Linked DNA regions of Homo sapiens: regions 1 and 2 are each linked to region 3. Evidence: fine-mapped expression QTL. A gene starts in region 3. Each other region holds a variant in brackets. All regions are shown on one strand. Distances are between the middles of the regions. Region 1 has its middle 34 kb from the start of ZNF740. Region 2 overlaps CSAD (cysteine sulfinic acid decarboxylase). Region 3 holds the start of ITGB7 (integrin subunit beta 7).

Region 1 (4,144 bases), 60 kb before region 3:
TAAAACTGAAGTTGGGCCAGGAGTGGTGGCTCACACCTGTAATCCCAGCACTTTGGGAGGCCTAGGCAGGCGGATCACTTGAACCCAGGGGTTCGAGACCAGCCTGGCCAACATGGTAAAACCCCATTTCTACTAAAAATGTAAAAAAAAAAAAATTCTTTTTAAAGAAGAAGAAAAAGCCTGAAGCAGTACTTAGAAATTTATAGCACTGAATGCCTATAGTAGAAAAGAAGAAAAATCTATAACCAATGTCCTCAGCTTCCACCTTAACAAACTAGAAAAGAGGAGATTATACTCAAAATAAGCAGAATAAAGGAAATAATAGATTAAAGCAGAAATCAATTAAGTAGATAACAATAAAGACACCCAGTGAAACCAAGGTTGGTTCTTTGAGAAGATCAGTTGCAATTGTATTAGTCAGGATTCTCCAGGGAAACAGAACCATTAGGATATATGTAAATATGTAAGAGATTTATCACGGGAATTGGCTTGCACAATTATGGAGGTCAAGAATTCCCATGATATGCCATCTGTAAGCTGGAGAATCAGGAAAGCTAGGGGTGTTACTCAATCAGAGTCCAAGGGCATGAGAACTAGGGCAGCCAGTGGCAGAGCTCCCAGTCTGAGGCCAAAGGCCTGAGAACCAGGGCAGGAAATGGTGTCATCCCAGAGTCCAAAGGCCTGAGAACCAGGACCTCCAGTGTCCTCAGGTGAGTGTCAAGGGCATAAGATTGATGTCCCAGCTCAAGAAGACAGAGAATGTGCCCTTTCCTCACCTTTTTGTTCTATTGAGCCCTCAGTGATTGGATGATGCCTGCACATTGATGAGGACAGATCTTCTTTCCTCAGTACAGCAATTCAAATGCAAGCTCTTCTAGAGACAGCCTCACAGACACACCCAGAAATAATGTCTACCAGCTCTCTAACCTAGGCCAGTTGACATACAACATCAACCGTCACAGGCCAGACATTAGGGCTCATGTCCCTAATCCCAGCACTTTGGGAAGCTGAGGCAGGAGGTTCATTTGAGCCCAGCCTGGCCAACATAGCAAAACACCATCCCAGGCCAGGCGAGGTGGCTCACGCCTGTAATCCCAGCACTTTGGGGGACTGGGGTGGGCAGATCACTTGAAATCAGAAGTTCCAGACCAACCTGGCCAATACAGTGAAACCCCGTCTCTACTAAAACAAAATACAAAAATTAGCCAGGAGTGGTGGCATGCACCTGTAGTCCCAGCCACTTGGGAGGCAGAGGCTGGGGAATTGCTTGAACCCAGGAGGTGGAGGTTGCAGTGAGTCGAGATCATGCCACTGCACTCCAGCCTGGGCAACAGAGCAAGACTCCATCTCAAAAAACAACAACAAAAAAAGAACACATCATCCCTACCAAAAAAAAAAATCAACCATCACAGCAATAAACCTCTCACTAAAATGAACAGGAAGAAAAAAAAGGGAGAAAACACAAATAATTAATATCAGAAATGAAAAAAGTGACAATATAGGTTCTACAGAACTGAAAGGATAATAAGAAAATAAGTTTATGTCAATAAGTGCTGAAACGTAGATGAAATAGACAAATTTCTGGACAGGTTTGGTGGCTCATGCCTGTAATCTCAGCTCTTGGGAGAGTGAAGCGGGAGGATCGCTTAAAGCCAGAAGTTTGAGACCAGTGTGGGCAACAAAGTAAGACCCCATTTCTACAAGAAAAAAAAAATAGCCAGGCTTGAAGCATGCTCCTGTAGTCTCAGTTACTCAGGGAGCTGAGATGGAAGAATTGCCTGAGCCCAGGAGTTTGAGACCAGCCTGGGAGATAGAGTGAGACCCCATCTCAAAAAAAAAAGGAAAGAAAAGAGACTGTTTTTTTTTAACTGCTTCTTGTGGAACAGGGCTACCTCATAGGCAGTGTCCCCAAGACAAATTTCTTTCTTTCTTTTTTTGAAACAGGATCTCACTCTGTCACCTAGGCTGGAGTGCAGTGGCACGATCTCAGCTCACTGCAACCTCTGTTTCCTGGGCTCAAGTAATTCTCCAGCCTCAGCCTCCCATGTGCTGGGATTACAGGCATAAGCCACCAAAGCCTGGCTAGTTATATATACATACACATATATATAGGGGTGTGTGCATATATATATATACACACACACATACACACACATATGTGTATATATACATATACACACCTACACACATATATATGTGTATATATACATATACACACACATATATGTGTATATATACATATACATACATATGTGTATACACATGTATATGTGCA[C/T]ATATGTATACGTATATGCACATATACATACATATATGTATACATATATACACATATATGTGCATGTATGTATACGTATGTGCACATATGTACATGTGTATGCATAAATACATATATGTACATGTGTATACATAAATACACATATATGTACATGCGTGTACATAAATACACATATATGTACATGCGTATACATAAATACACATATATGTACATGTGTATACATATATACACATATATGTACATGCGTATACATATATACACATATGTACATGTGTGTACATAAATACACATATGTACATATGTGTACATAAATACACATATGTACATGTATACATATATACACATGTATGTACATGTATATATATACACATGTATGTATACGTATATACACACATATATGTATATGTATATATACACACATATATGCATATGTATATACACACACATATGTGTATATGTATATATGTATATATACACGTATATATGTATATATACGTATATATGTATACATACACGTATACATGTATATATGTATGTATATATGTGTGTATATATGCATGTATACGTGTGTATGTATATATGTGTATGTATATATACGTATATAGACGTATTATACACATATACGTATATATATACGTGTATATACACGCTTATATACACGCGTATATACACGCGTATATATACACGTATATGTGTGTGTGTGTGTGTGTGTGTGTGTGTGTGTATTTTTTTTTTTGGTAGAGATGACGTTTTACCATGTTGCCCAGGCTGGTCTCAAACTCCTGAGCTCAAAGCAATCCACCCACCTCAGCCTCCCAAAGTTCTGGGATTACAGGCGTGAGCCACCATGCCCGGCTGCCAAAACAAATTTCTTAACAGACAAAAACTACCAAAGTTTACCTAAGAAGAAACAGTCCTGAATAGCCATTATCTTTATTTTTTTTTTTTTTTATTATTTTTCTTTGAGACAGAGTCTTGCCTTTCGCCCAGGCTGGAGTGCAATGGTGCTGTCTCACCTCACCGCAACCTCCGTCTCCCGGGTTCAAGCAATTCTCCTGCCTCAGCCTCCATGGGCCATAATTCTATGAAACTTGTAATGCTAATGCTAAATCAAGGGTTGTGAAAACACTGCCATCTTTATACAAAACCCAACCTCCAGCCGGGTGTGGTGGCTCACACCTGAAATCTCAGCACTTTGGGAGGCCGAGGCGGGCGGATCATCTGAGGTCGGGAGTTCCAGACCAGCCTGACCAACATGGAGAAACCCTGTCTCTACTAAAAATACAAAATTAGCCGGGCATGGTGGCACATGCCTGTAATCCCAGCTACTCAGGAAGGCTGAGGCAGGAGAATCACTTGAACCCGGGAGCTGGAGGTTGCTGTGAGCCTAGGCCACTGCACTCCAGCCTGGGCAACAAGAGCGAAACTCGGTCTCAAAAAACAAACAAACAAACAAAAACCCAACCTCCAAGTTCCTCCACTTAACATTTAAAAACTCTAGAAAGGAGGGTGGGTCGGCTGGGTGCAGTGGCTCATGCCTGTAATCCCAGCACTTTGGGAGGCCGAGGCGGGCAGATCAAGAGGTCAGGAGATTGGGACCATCAGTTGGTCCCAATTGGTCAGATTGGGCTAACACGGTGAAACCCCGTTTCTACTAAAAATGCAAAAAGTTAGCCGGGCAGGGTGGCACCTGCCTGTAGTCCCAGCTACTCGGGAGGCTGAGGCAAGAGAATCGCCTGAACCCAGGAGGCGGAAGTTGTAGTGAGCCGAGATCGCGCCACTGCATTCCAGCCTCAGCGACAGAGCGAGACTCCATCTCAAAAAAAAAAAAAGAAAGGAGGGTGGGTCAATCAGGCACCACAACTCTGT
Region 2 (4,353 bases), 34 kb before region 3:
CTAAGCAGCTGGGACTACAGGTGCCCACCACCATGCCTGGCTAATTTTTTGTATTTTAGTAAAGAGGGGGTTTCACTATGTTTCCCAGGGTGGTATCAAACTCCTGAGCTCAGGCAATCCACCCACCTCAGCCTCTCAAAGTGCTGGGATTACAGGCGTGAGTCACCGTGCCCGGCCAGATTCTGCATTTCTAACAAGCCCCAGGTCATACCAATGCTGCTGGTCCACAGACCACACTCTTGAGTAGGAAGAGTATGGACTGTGTCCACTGCACTCACGGCCCCTCCTCTGCCCCCAAACAGAAGGCAATGTGAACAGGAGCAGTTACTTGACCTCCTTGATTGGAAGGAAGCACATCCGCCTGGGGGCAGGCTGGCCTTGGAGGATGTAGGGAGGGCAGGGAGAAGACCTGGAAGGTCTCTACTTAGCTGGCTGGAGATTAGAATCAGGAGCCCAGGGTTGGGCCTGTGCCTCTTCCCCACCTCCTTCGATGTGAATAGGGCCAGGGGCGGCAGTGTGCGGAGGCCCCTCTGCTTGCAATCCGGGTAGCGCTGATAGCGGGCCAGATTTACAGCATACATGTTGGAGATGGAGCCACCTGTCACAGGGAGGGGGCGGTGGCAAGAGGAAGGAGCAGTGGGTCAAGACTGGAGCTTGCCTCCCTTCCCTTTCTACCAGAAGAGCTCATCAAAGAAGCAGGTATGACTGGCTCCCAGGCCACAATTCTCAGGATCATACCATCCCAGAATGGATCCAGGATCAGCAGATCCTCTTGACCACACCTCTCCACATCTGGGGCTGCCCCCAAGAGACAGCCCCCGTCCGGAGATAGCAGGAACTAGACCACTGACCCCAGGGAATGGTGACAAACATGAGCATGAAGGGACCAGGCAGCCGCCTCCCTGGCCTGGCCTGGGTCCAGCTGGAGAGGAATCAAAGAGGAATCATCCCTCCCTGCCAGACACTAGAGCAAGAGAACGGTGGGGGAGGAGGAACTCATAAAAAGGGCAAAGAAAGGTCCTCCTCCTTCTCACAAACCAGGGCAGAAGATTCCGTCCCCAGAGCTCCAGCCCACCAGGGCCCGCAGTTTCCTCAGCACCTCCTCTTCCATGAGCACAAACACGGGGGCGATTTCATATGTGTACCTGCCAGGAGAGAGAACGACGAGAAAGGAGAGATGGGGAGGGACTGCCCAGACAGGCCCTTAAACTGCACAGGAGTCACAAAAAGGAGGCAGTGAAGAGTGAGCAAAGCAACAGTCCAAGGAGAAGAACGAGTTGGTGACAGAACCAGGGAAGCAAGAAAGAGAAAACAGGGGTCAGGAGGCCTGAGAAAGTTTGGAGAAAGTGGGTCCAAAGGATATGAGGAAAAACTCTCTGCCGACAGGGATTCCCAGAAGCAGTAGAGAGAGGGCAGAACCATTCTCCTCCCCTACCCCTCAGGCACCTCTCTAGCAAACCTAAATCCTTTGTGGGATGGTAGAGGGGCCTTGGGATGCTCACTGGCTGGTGTTGAGGCTCTCAGTGATAATGCGCCCGGCCAGAGCATGGGGATCCAACCCAGAGAAGAGCTGGTTGAAGAACCGAGGGTGACCTGGAGAAGGAGAGTAAGCCAGGGAGCTCAGAGTAGAGCTCAGGGCAAACTCCCAAGTCTCCTCCTCACAGAAGCCAGGGCCCACCAGTCTTGACACTGTAGCGAATCACAGCCCGACACCGCTCCAGGATCTGCTTCTGTGACTCGCCCTGGCTCCGCAGCTCCAAATCCAGCAGCTGCTTCAGCTCCTCAGGCTCCTTCCACTCACAGACCTAGGAAGAGAGCCGGGGATGCTGGGGGCCTGGGATGCCTGTGGACTGGCTGTCAAAC[C/T]ACACCTCCACAGACACGAGACACGGCCAACCTGCACTAAAAACAACTTCGGGATATTTCCAAAGCAAAACTCTGAAAATGAACAAGAGTAGTGAACACAGTAAGACCCAGAATGTAAATCCCTGAGGTACCCAGGGGGGCAGGGATGAATTCTGGGGAGAAATCTTATCAAAGGAGGAAAGTTCTGAGCCAGATTTGGAAAGAGAAAGAGAAGGCTTGGGCCAGGCGTGGTAGCTCACGCCTGTAACCTCAGCACTTTGGGAGGCCGAGGCAGGCAGATTACCTGAGGTCAGGAGTTCGAGAGCAGCCTGGCTAACATGGTGAAACCCCGTCTCTACTAAAAATACAAAAATTAGCCGGGCGTGGTGGCACATGCCTGTAATCCCAGCTACTCGGGAGGCTGAGGCAGGAGAGCTGCTTGAGCCCGGGAGACGGAGGTTGCAGTGAGCCAAGATTGTGCCACTGCACTCCAGCCTGGCCGATAGAGCGAGACTCTGTCAAGAAAGAAAGGAAGAAAGGAAAAAAGGAAGGAAGAAAGAAGGAAGGAAGGGGGGGGGAGAAAGAAAAGAAAGGAAAAAAGAAAAGAGAAAAGAAAAGAAAGAAAGCTTGATGGGAAGGAGGAGGAAGAAAGGACTCACCTTCTGGGAGACACTGGTTCCTTTCTGAATGGCCTCATCCACAACAACCCCAAACACGGCCCGGAGCAAGGCTTCCACAGCCACTGGGTCCCCAGCAAGGGAGGGGAGTGCTTCTGAGTCAGCCATCAGGATCTGTGGCAGAGCAGAGTCATTCCCTACTCAGCCTGTCAACCCTTCCCGGACCTACCCAGCAGGAGCCTCCTCTCCCAAACGGGCCTGAGGCCCAAACCCTGCAGCTCAGTCTCGGCCTCCAGTGCACAGACAAGGGCAAGTGAGAGTGCCCAGGGAGAAAACCAGTGGGAACAGGTGGGAGAGAAAAGGCAGTCAGTGCTGAGCAAGTGGACTCTAGTGGCCATTTCCACCTAAGGCAGAGACAAGCTTACCTCTCTGCTCAGGAGAGCCGGAGGCAGGGTGCACAGGTAGCTCCTCAGGACAGCAGGACCAAGATGGCAGAGGAAGTGGGGTGAAAAGTGTACAATTAAGTGTTTTTTTCATAAATTCACAAAGTTGTTGCAACCATCATCACTATCTAACGCCAGAACATTTTCATCACCCAAAAAAAAACCTCAGTAGCAGTCATTTCCCATTCTCCCCTTCCCCGACCCCTGGCAACTACTAATCTACTTTGTTTCTGTAGATTTGTCTAGTCTGGCCATTTCATGTAAAACGGGTCATACAGGCCAGGCGCAGTGGGTCACGCCTGTAATCCCAGCACTTTGGGAGGCCGAGGCGGGCGGATCACGAGGTCAGGAGATCGAGACCATCCTGGCTAACACGGTGAAACCCCGTCTCTACTAAAAATACAAAAAATTAGCCGGGTGTGGTGGCGGGCCCCTGTAGTCCCAGCTAGCTACTCTGGAGGCTGAGGCAGGAGAATGGCGTGAACCCGGGAGGCAGAGCTTGCAGTGAGCAGAGATCGCGCCACTGCACCCCAGCCTAGGCGACAGAGCGAGACTCCATCTCAAAAAAAAAAAAAAGAAAAAAAGAAAATACTGAAAAAGAAGGAAAAAGACTTCAAAATATTCATTTGTGGCTATTTCTGGGTGTTGTTATGGATGATTTTTAAGTTTATTATTTATACACATCTATATTTTTATAACTTTATACAATCATTTCACATTGCTTATGGAATTAAAATAACGGTTCTTTTTAAACAATATAAAAATTGTCCGCGTGTGGTGGCTCACACCTGTAATCCCAGCACTTTGGGATGCTGAGGTGGGTGGATCACCTGAGGTCAGGGGTTTGAGACCAGCCTGGCCAACATGGCGAAACCTCATTTCTACTAAAAAATACACAATTAGCCGGGCGTGGTGGCGGGTGCCTGTAATCCCAGCTACTCAGGAGGCTGAGGCAGGATCCACCTGAACCTGTGAGGCGGAGGTTGCACTGAGCCAAGATGGTACCACTGCACTCCAGCCTGGGCGACAGAGTGGGACTCCATTTCAAAAATATATATATATATGGAGGAATTAAGGGGGTACAAGAATTCTAAAATATACAAATCATCAGGCTCAAGGAATGTCCCTTGCACATCATGTGGTTTCCCAACTCCTCAATCCACTGTTATCAAAGGTCTAATGGAAGGCAAAGGGAGCCACACACTGCTCATCTCTATTACGCAACCCCTCAACCCCCGCTGGCTCTCAGGGAAGGGAATGGGTTCAGTTTGTTCAGCAAACATTGACTGAGTGTTGTCTACTTCTGAGCGCCTGGCTGGCATTACCCTAGGTGCTGCATCTGCCCTGTGGGCTCCAGCTAACAGGCTGGCAAGAGAGACCTGCATGTAAAATAAAGGGAAATTGCCACAAGAGGGAGTTGAGAGGTCACCATGGAAAGGCAGGAAAGTTCA
Region 3 (4,000 bases):
GTGATTACAGGCGTGAGCCATCACCCCCAGCCAAATGTCATGTATTTATCATTTCACACGTCTGCAACTGAATCTGTAGGATAAATCCCTAGCAGAGGACGTGCAGGATAACTAGATAGGTATCATTTGTAATACTGGTGTGTATTTCATCTACATTCTCATGCTAAGAAATATATATATATAGGTGGGTATTGCCAACATAAACTCTTCAGGACTTGTACTGGTCCACATTCCCATCAGCAATGTATGAGAAAGGCCAACTAACTCCTTGTCATAAACCATTTGCATCTTCTTCAGCCTGGGCCCAGAGTCAGGTCCAGATACTCTGCACAGAGTGTGGGAAAGGGGTGGGGTGTTGAGTCCTTGAATGTCCTGGTCCTGCTCCCCACCACCTGTGACCTCAGGCGCCATATATAACGGAGCCTCCACCCCTCGGGGAGAGGCCAGTCCCAGCTCAGCCTCAGCGTAACCTCAGCCCTGCTTGCTCTGCATGCCTGTGGTCAGGGAGGCTGGAGATGCTGCAACCCAAAGCCGGGTTTTGACTCATCTCTCACAAGTGGAGCCCCGGCTGCCGCATAGGTTTTTCAGAGACCTTAGGCCCACTCATCTCCCCTTAAAGGGGGCCCTGGGACTTCCTGGACAGCCCTTTCCTACCTTTCTTTCCAATTATCCTCTCTTCTCCCCTCCTTGAGAATACATGTTCTGCCACCTATTTCTCTGTCTGCTTCTCTGTCTCTCTCTGGCTCCTTTCATTTCAAAACTTCTATTGCATCTCTCTGCTGCTTTTCTCTGCTCCACTTCTTCATAGGGCTATTTTACTTCCTTTTCCCCTCTGTTCCTAACTATAGAATGGCTGAATCTACTACTCCATCCCACTCTTTTTACAAATGGAAACCTAAATTCCATGAGGCCAGGGTCACCCAGTGAACTAGGGGCAGGGCAGGACAGGGCAGGGCCAGGCCTCTGCTGTGCTTTCTCCTTTCCTCCCTCCAACCCAGGCACTATCTCCATCAAAAGTTGTGTTCTCTCCCCACTAGCCCTGGTGGGCTCTGCCTAATCCCATTTCTCTTTCCTTAGGGGTATTCTGCAGTCTTCCCTTCTCTCTCTGGGACCAAGTGGTTATTTCCATTTTTCTGGACTCCATTCTGACTCCAGTACACACCCTGTGACCCCCCTCAGCAGCTGAGAAACAGAGCCTCTTCCAAACCCATCCCTACCTTCCAAATCAAGCAGAACCCTCTGCTGCCCACTGGGAGTCACAAGGAGGGGACGGAACTGAGCTGCTGGGCCTCAGTGTCCCAGGACAGTGGAGTCTGTGACCAAGGTGCCGATTAGGAAGAAGTCTGAGCTGAAGGCAGAGCATTAGGGATAGCAGCTGGGGGTGATGTTGGAAGAACCCTCCCTCAGTATAATCGGTATACCTGCCCTACTTCGGTATAGTCCTTGGCACATGGCAGGCACTCAGATGACAGCACTCATATACATCCCTGCCTCCAGACCCACTCATGGGAAACTGATGCAGGAGAGATTGGGCTTTTGGAGAGGTGGAGGTGGGGGTACTGTGAAACTGGAGGAGGGAACCAGGTCAGGGGATCTTAGGAATGCAGAAAGGAGTTCAGAGCCTTTCTCAAGTCTGGACAGGACCCTCGGTATCCAGGTCAGAGCCCTCTTCCCAAGAGGTTGGGACCAGGTGGGCCAGAGCTTGTAAGGAGAGGAGGCAGAAGGGCTGGTGCCCTGGTACTCACAGGTGCGTGCAGAGCAGTCCTTCCTCTGGCGGCAGCAGCAGCCTTTGTGTACTGATCTGGGAGACGGCAGAGGAGGAAGTGACACTCCCCAGGGTGGGGAAGATTTGGGGTTGGTGGGGGTGACTGATCTAGAAGGTGGTGCAGATAGGGGTGGGGCTGAGCCAAGGGAGTGGACAATACAGAGATCTGGAAGAAAGAAGCCCATTTATTGAACCCCTGTCATGTGTTGAACGTAACATATTACAATTAACCCTCACAACAATCTCATAAGATAGGGGTTAATATTCCCCCAAGCCCCAATTTTACAGATGCAGAGATTGAGGCTTGGAAGCAGGAAATAAAGAATTTTGCCCAAGGTCCCACAGCTAGTAAGTAGCTAGTCTAGGATTTAAAAAAAAAAAAGAAAAAAGATTTTTATTTTAAATTTTTATTATTTTATTTTTTTTATTTTAATTTAATTTAACTTTTGAGACAGGGTCTTGCTCTGTTTCCCAGGCACAATCTCAGCTCACTGTCCCATGGCACAATCTCAGCTCACTGCAAACTCCGCCTCCCAGGTTCAAGCGATTCTCCTGCCTCAGCCTCCCGAATAGCTGGGATTACAGGGGTGCACTACCATGCCCAGCAACGTTTTATATTCTTAATAGAGACGGGGTTTCACCATGTTGGCCAGGCTGGTCTCAAACTCTTGACCTCAATTGATCTGCCCACCTCGGCCTCCCAAAGTGCTGGGATTACAGGTGTGGGCCACCATGCCCAGCCTGTTTTTTATTTTTGAGACAGGGTCTTGCTGTGTTGCCCAGGCTGGTCTGTAACTCCTGGACTCAAGCAATCCTCCCACTTTGGCCTCCTGAGTAGCTGGGATTACAGGCACACTCGGCTGGTCTGGGATTTAAATCCAGGTCTGCCTGCCTCCAAAATTCATGATCTCTCCATTTACTTATATAGGAAGGAACATGATAGGAGGGAATAGGGGCAGTAAGTACTGTAGAGAGGCCAGAAATTACAGACTTGTTCATTTTGAAAACCCAGGATACATTATATAAGTGTGCTTGACTACATAGGCTCTGGAGCCAAGTTGCTAGAGTTCAAATCCTGGCTCTACTACTTACTAGTAGTAAGGAGCTTAGCTGAGTTACTTAAACCTGCCTGCAGCTGTTTTCTCATCTGTCCAGCAAGACTCACAGGATTGTCGTGAGAATTAAAAGAGATAATTCATATCAATTGCCTACAAGACTACCTGGCACATACTAAGTAAGGGCTTGATAAGAGAATTAGTAGGGATGAGAAGTAGCAGAGGTGAGAAGTGAAGAGGCTTTGAGAAATTCAAGGTCCACACAACTGGAAACTTGGAAGAGAGAGGCATAGGGCCAGGCTCAGAGCATGTGATTGGGGAACCAGGAGCCAACACAGTAGTGGATCCTGGGAAAGGGGTGGAGGAGGTGAACTGGGAGAAGCAGAGAGTGCAGGAACAACAGCTGAAGCCAAGGCAAGGATGAAGCCCGTAGGGAGAGCAGGAAAATATTAATGGGATTTGCTCCTGGCCCATACAGATCACTAAGAGCTTTGAGAGGGAACTAGACATGAGGTCTGTGTTCACAGGTCGATCTCCCCTACCAGAAGGAGCACTCCTTGTAGGCAGGGACTGGCTCTACAAGGCTTCCCTGCTGGAGCCACCACACCTAGCCAAGTGCCCATCTTATAGTAGGTGCTCAATAAATGTCAGATGGATTGCAGAGGTGTAGCTGCTAGGAGGGGACAATTGGAGAGGAGGGGCTCTTTCTCTGGGTGGGCTTGGCTGGCCTCAGGCTATGGGATAGCCAGGACCTATACCCTTCCCCCACAACCAGGGGTTACCACGGCAATGACCCTCCTTCCCCACAGGCCCTGTGGTTTCCTCTAGAGCTTCTTTCACTTTCTTCTTCTGCTTTCCGCCCTCCACTCTTCTCTCCCCTACTCCCACATCCTCAACTTTTTTGTCATAACCACAGGTCACCAATGAAGAGAGCCAGGAACAAGGTAGGCAAGGCACTGTCCCAGGGAAGGTAGGACACGGAGGAGGGGCTTGAGGGGAGTCACAGAGGGCGAAGGGAAGAGTACAGGGTGCAGCAGTAGAGGCCAAAGGCACTGCAAAGGCGTGTTGCAGAGGGAAGGCGTGTGGGAGCAAGGACAGATATTCGGAAAGAAGGTAACAGTGCAGGTGGCAGTGAGTGGAGGTCATGGGGTGAAGAGTGGGAACAGAGAGGGTGGGGGGA

The links. PIP is the estimated chance that this variant, and not a neighbour inherited with it, causes the effect. A credible set is the group of variants that fine-mapping cannot tell apart.
Region 1: its variant is the best candidate, but not a certain one, in a credible set for the expression of ITGB7 in whole blood (TOPMed, PIP 0.76).
Region 2: its variant is the best candidate, but not a certain one, in a credible set for the expression of ITGB7 in whole blood (INTERVAL, PIP 0.62).

Annotation. Positions count from the first base shown.
Region 1 is chr12:53,144,992-53,149,135 of GRCh38, forward strand. No RefSeq gene overlaps it. Among named protein-coding and RNA genes, the nearest start is that of ZNF740, 34 kb to the right of the region's middle. The variant C/T (reference allele first, on the strand shown) is at 2,276.
Region 2 is chr12:53,170,844-53,175,196 of GRCh38, forward strand. It overlaps CSAD (cysteine sulfinic acid decarboxylase), which reads right to left. Exons shown (of 17, transcript NM_001244705.2): 3 at 2,885-2,927; 4 at 2,502-2,633; 5 at 1,679-1,805; 6 at 1,503-1,593; 7 at 1,039-1,145; 8 at 483-598. The coding sequence starts at 2,627. Among named protein-coding and RNA genes, the nearest start is that of ZNF740, 7.7 kb to the right of the region's middle. RefSeq lists enhancers at 670-1,169, 4,036-4,353. The variant C/T (reference allele first, on the strand shown) is at 1,864.
Region 3 is chr12:53,205,457-53,209,456 of GRCh38, forward strand. It overlaps ITGB7 (integrin subunit beta 7), which reads right to left and starts at 1,795. Exons shown (of 16, transcript NM_000889.3): 1 at 1,746-1,795.